Regions from separate parts of the Homo sapiens genome. Here region 1 is linked to region 2. The links come from fine-mapping of genetic effects on gene expression. A gene starts in region 2. The other region holds a variant in brackets. All regions are shown on one strand. Distances are from middle to middle.

Region 1 (2,907 bases), 47 kb before region 2:
GGAGTGGGGACAGGAAGGAGCCCACCTAAGGGTTCACGGAAGGATTTGGGGCAGCAACAATGCCTAATGTGAGCCTCAAAGGTAAGAGAGTTTATTCATACAAAGTGGCAGGTAAGGCCATCCAGGCAGAAGTGATGGCATAAGCACATGCCTGGAGGCTGGATTGAACAATGCAGGTGTATTAGGCTGTTTTTGTGTTCTGTAAAGAAATACCTGAGACTGGGTAATTTATATTGAAAAGAGATTTAGTTGGCTGATGGTCCTGCAGGCTGTACAAGTGCCATGCCAGCATTTGCTTAGCTTCTGGTTAGGGCCTCAGGAAGCTTATGATCATAGTGGAAAGCAAAATGGGAGCAGGCACTTTCCATGGCAAAAGCAGGGGCAAGAGAGAGAGAGAGAGAGGAACCAGGATCCTTTAAACCACAGCTCTCCTGTGAACTATCAGAGCGAGAACTCACTCATTACCATGGGGAGGGCACAAAGTCAGGAGGGAACCAACCCCATGATCCAAACACCTCCCACCAGGCCCTGCCTCCAATATTGGGAATCACATTTCAACATGAGATTTGGCGGGGACACACATTCAAACCATATCAGTGGGTGTGCAGGGAATTCCAAGCAGATCTTCTTCATGCTCTATTAGGAAAACCCATGCAGAATTTCTCTAGTTCCCTTTCTTCCTCCATTCTGAGGACCCCAGCCTAGTCACAGGCAAAGCCATAAGGCAGTCAAATGCTCATCTTCTGGGGGTCTCTGTGTCTTCCCAATCTGCTATCTCCACCATCATGCATCTCTAAACCCCTCAGCCACTCTTGGCCAGCATGCCTCTCCCCACTTGTATCTCTCAATGCCAACTCTGAAAGCATTCACATTTAAGTATGAATTGTTGGTAACTGCTAAGCACTTATTCCTCCTGGGGTACTTTTATTTATCATGGCCCAGATGTAAGCAACGAGATGAAGCTTCAATAGTGGGGTTGCAGGTGTCTGCCAGAAACTGATTAAAGAACTGGGAAAGAAGGAAGAAGGGCAACAATAGCTTCCTGGGGGTCCTGAAACCAGACATGTAGGTTTTTATCTATTATCTCCTATGTGAGATCCTGCCAACTTGTTACTTCTGCAGCTCTGAAAAACTAGCTCACACAATGGATGCCCCAGACCAAAGGGCAGGCACTCTTATCACAAAACTGCCTTAATTTCCATTTAAAATTTTCTATTTAAAATTACTTCAAGGCTGGTTGGAAGGGCAAGACTTCAAAAACAACACATTCCTTTTTAATTAATTGGAGGCGGGTGACTATAGGAATGTTTTAGCTTTGCCGTTAATATGAGTGCTATGAATTTGTAATAGTGACATCTTCCTATACTTGTGCAGTAAGAT[G/C]TTTGTTAGCAAGAATGTTTGGAGAAGCAAGATGTTCCCTGGTGAACTGAATTCCCTGGGTAGCCCTTTAAGCAATTTGGGGCAATGTAATAAAAAGCAGAAGATTAAGAGTTCTGCGTTCCAGACCTAGTTTTGGCACAAAGAGTTGTGTGACCTAGGGCAAGTAATTTTCCCTCTCTGGGTCTTAATCTTGTTATTTTTAAAGTGAATAAATTAGAAAAGATGGGCTTGAAAGACACTCTGTTCCTAAAATGTGGCTAGGAGAAGGTGAAAATAACTAAATCTTTTATTTGCACCTAAAAATTCCAATGGCTGAGTAGAGACTCCACAAGCTACTACAGTCCTCTCTCCCAGCACCATGCATGGCTCACAGCACGGGCTGGATAAATGTTTGCCGAGAGGATGAAAGAGCTTGTGGACTAGCATTCTATTCTGAAAACACAGGCAGCTGGATCTGCAGGGGAGGGGCCAGCACTGTAGATTGCAAGGAAAATCAGGCCACAAAGGAAGAACCACCTGTGACCACCTTTGCTAGCTGCTTCTGGGCTCTGCCTTCTCACAACTTCTCTGTAGCATCTTTCCATAGTATTCTCAGCACCTTACCTTAAAAAGCAGTTGAAGAAGCACCCTTTTTGGAAGGCTGTCCCCACCCCATGTCCCCGCCCCCACCCCCTCCTGCTCTATCCAACTCCTTCAGACTAGGGCAGTTGAGATCCAAAGACTTCAGATGACTTTTCCAAGGCCACATAGACGATCGGTAGGGATGGAGTTTGCTATTGAATGGAGATGGCTGAAATCTCAGTCAAAATCGTGAACGTATGTAATTTAGACATAATCAGGGAAGACAGGAAAAACAGAACTGAATCCTTTGGAAAGTCATCTTCGAGAGATGTTCCTGCTAACCCTTGCTTATCTTTCATTTTATTCCCTTAAAAGAGTAAACTGCTGAAGACAGAGGAAGAAAAATCCTGCCTTGTTATTGAATGGTATGGATTCACATTCACATCAAGGTTTTTTTTTTTTTTTTTTTTTTTAATCGTGGAGGATTTACTCAGGGTAAAGACAGAAAGCCACACTCCTACGACAGGTCCTGAGCTCCCAGGGGAAGGATAGAAGGGAAGCTGTGTAGCTGTCTTTTCTCACTATGTTCCTTCTTCTCCCGCCTAGGGTGATTGGGAGGATTAGGGGAGATAACACAAGTAAAATGGGGGCGCAGTGCCTGGCAGAAAGCACTCAGTGCATCTGCCATCTTCAAGGTCACTCTGCCCTCTGGGCCCATTCCTCCTTCCTCCCTCTCCTCACCCCCAGCCAGCACATTAAAGGTCACAGGTCTGGAGAAAGTCCTTCTCTGCCACTGTGCAACAGGGAAATGTTTCTCCCAGCCAAGTGCCCCTGTCATGTGGGCCCACCCAACTAATTTCTTCTGAGCCCCTATAGAACTTACAGTGAAGACTGTGGTTAGTCCTGGATGATTATATCTTCTGCTTTAGAAGGGAGCTTTGAAAACAGCCTCACAATTACAGAAAA
Region 2 (2,907 bases):
ACCAGTGACTCTTCCCTTCTCAGCGATCTGCATATTTCTAGGGAAACTTTGCACTGAGAGAGTTTTCCCCCTTTGTGAAAGGTCTTGGCGCCCAGGCAGTCCCCGACTTCCCCTCCCCCAAGTCCTGGCGACTGTTTCTGCTCAGCCCTGGAGGCTACTCTCCCGCAGCCTCAGGTTTCCCTACTTCTGCAGCGTCGGCACCAAGGGCTGATCAAATGTTTCTTTCTCCTTACACCGGCGGACCGGGAAACGCCGCCGCAGCCTCGCCTCCATCCTTCCTCCTACAGGTTGCAAATAAAGTACAGCAGCTCTGACATTAGGCAGTTTCTGTCCAAGGAGCAAGGTGACTTCATTTAATTTGCACTGTGCTCCTTCATCCCTGTCTGCATCAGGTTGAACGGGAGGCTCTCCCTACTACCAAACGCCTAACATTTCCTTGATACTGCCTTGAAAAATCATGATTATGACAAAAATAATAACGTCGGAGAATGGAGTGCTTGTTTTCTGCTTTGCAAGTCACCAAGCAAGAAAACACTTTTGTCTCCTTGGCTTTTATTTTAGGATCTCTGAGCGAAAGAGAGAAAGAGAATTTTAAGAAATGTCATTTTCGCTTTGCCAAAGATCATTGTGTCAATAACGTTTCTCTCCCATTCCTCCCCCTCCTCCCGTTTTAAAGGAAAGGTTCACGGGTCCAGCCAGGTTTCTGCCGCATCCCGACACCTGGAGACGTCTTTCAGGACCAGCCTGAATCGCGTCCGGGCTGGGCTCTGGACTCGGACTCGCAGCGGTGACAGCGGAGGCGGGGACGGGGGTGGACAAACTGCGGATCAACTCTCCGAGAAGACGGCCACCTGCCGGAACCTGCCTTCCTCCATTCCGCCCAGGAGCCTCGCAGCGGGGCGCTGGCCTGCGGAAAGGCCACGGGGGAGCACAGGGCTCCGCGCCGCCCTCCTGGGAGGGTCCGGAGTCCAGCGCACCCCGAGCCCTGGTGGGTGAGCCCGGCGGGAGGCGCGGCAGGTGCGGCGGGAGACTGGACCCCGACCTACCTTCACAAAGAGCTCGATCTCGGGGTCCCTGTCGTCCCCGTTAGCTGTCGCCGAGTCTGTCATGCCGTTGGCGCCCGGGGCTACCGTCCCGGGCCGGGGAGGCGCCACCTCTGCAGCACCTGGGCCAGCACTCTGCGCTCCTGCCGCTGCCCAGCGGGGCTCCTCTTCAGGGCGGTGTTTAATTTTTCACAAAACCATCTATTCTCCAGCCCGAGCAGCGGGGTCTGAGAGATCAGTGTCCCAGATGCTCACATGAAAAGGAGCGAAGCCGGGAGGAGGCGGGGGGCCACGGGGAAAGCCGGGTTAAGGGAATGACAACAGGTCGTGGGAGCAACAAGTGCCGGGCTGCCCGGAGGTGTCACAGGATCCGCGACTGTCAGCGATCCCGCCGCCGCCAACGCGCCCAAAATAGCCGGCGGCTGCAGGGCGGGGTCAGCCGGGCGGGGACGCGGCGGGGACACCCCGGCAGCTCGGGCCTGGGCCGGGCCACGGCCCCCCGCCCCAAGACCCCGCAGGGCAGGAGGCGGAGACAGAGCTGGTCCTGGCAAAGCCACCAAGGCCAAGAGGATGTCCTGGGGGCGGATAATGAGGCGAAGGCAGAAAGAGTCGAGGAGAAGGGGAAGGGGAAGAGGAAGGGGAAAGGGGAAGGGGAAGAGGAAGGGGAAAGGGGAAGGGGAAGAGGAAGGGGAAAGGGGAAGGGGAAGAGGAAGGGGAAAGGGGAAGGGGAAGAGGAAGGGGAAAGGGGAAGGGGAAGGAAGAGAGGAGATGGCTCTCAAGTCTTCTGTTTCTTTAATAAAGCGTCAGCTCCTCCGAGTTACTCCACTACCAGCCTTACCCACTTGGAAAGCCCTTCCTGTCTTAGTGATGCTCAGAACCCCCACCAAAAGGGGCATTTGCCATCCTTGGGCTAAGCAAAAGGAGAGTAGGGTGCTGGGGACGGGCAGGGCAGGGCAGGGGTGGCTCCTGGGGCAGAGGGGTGAGTCAACCCGGTCAGGTGCGGCTTCCATGCCTTTCAGCCTTCTGGGTTTGTTTATTTTTCTTCTCCCTTCTTTCATTTTCTTTCTATTTCTTCCTTTATTTTCTGATCTTACTTCATTCCCGTTCTCTTCTGGTTGTTTTAGTGAAGTAGGATGCAAACACAGAAAAGATGCACATATCTTAGGTGTATGCCTCAATGAATTTTCACAATCCAACCCACCCATGTAACGAGCGCCAGATGAAGAATAAAATGTTAGCCACAGCCCTAGAAGCTCCTCCTGCTCTCTCCTCTCCACATCTTTTCTCCCGTCTCCACTGTCCCAGGGTAACCATTATTCTGGCTTGTAGCAGCATAGGATCTTTTTGCCTGGAATGTTGGTGTCTGGCTTCTTTCGCTCATTACTATGTTTGTGAGATTCATCCATTGTGCTATGTGTAGTTGTGTATCATCCATTTTCACCGACACACTTACTTATTCATTCTTCTGTCAATGGACATTTGTGCAGGTGACTATCATGACTACTCTGTCACGAACATTCTCTCTATCAAACATCTTTTGGTTGGATTCACAGACACTTTTCTCTTGGATGTATACTTAGGAGTGGACTTGCTGAGTTGTAGTGTATAAGAATGCTCTCCTTGTGTAAACACTGCCATAGGTTTTCTAAAGTGGTTGCACCAACAGACATTCCCACCCTTCAGTTCTTTAAAAAATAATTATTGAATGTTTTGCACCAGAATCTGGTGGAATTCTCTTTGTCTTCTTTGCCTTCTCTTTAATTAATCCTGTTTGTGCTATGTCCTTCCTTACTAAAAACATGTATTTGTTTAATAGCTTTATTAAAAAATTTATCGCTTAATAAAAAAATAAGTAATAATACTT

Evidence for each region. PIP is the estimated chance that this variant, and not a neighbour inherited with it, causes the effect.
Region 1: its variant is fine-mapped to the expression of CLIC5 in tibial artery (GTEx, PIP 0.98).

Annotation. Positions count from the first base shown.
Region 1 is chr6:45,967,406-45,970,312 of GRCh38, forward strand. All of the region lies in intron 1 of CLIC5 (chloride intracellular channel 5), which reads right to left. Among named protein-coding and RNA genes, the nearest start is that of CLIC5, 47 kb to the right of the region's middle. The variant G/C (reference allele first, on the strand shown) is at 1,381.
Region 2 is chr6:46,014,434-46,017,340 of GRCh38, forward strand. It overlaps CLIC5 (chloride intracellular channel 5), which reads right to left and starts at 1,427. Exons shown (of 6, transcript NM_016929.5): 1 at 1,047-1,427. The coding sequence starts at 1,109. RefSeq lists enhancers at 540-1,384, 1,385-2,229 and a silencer at 1,078-1,127.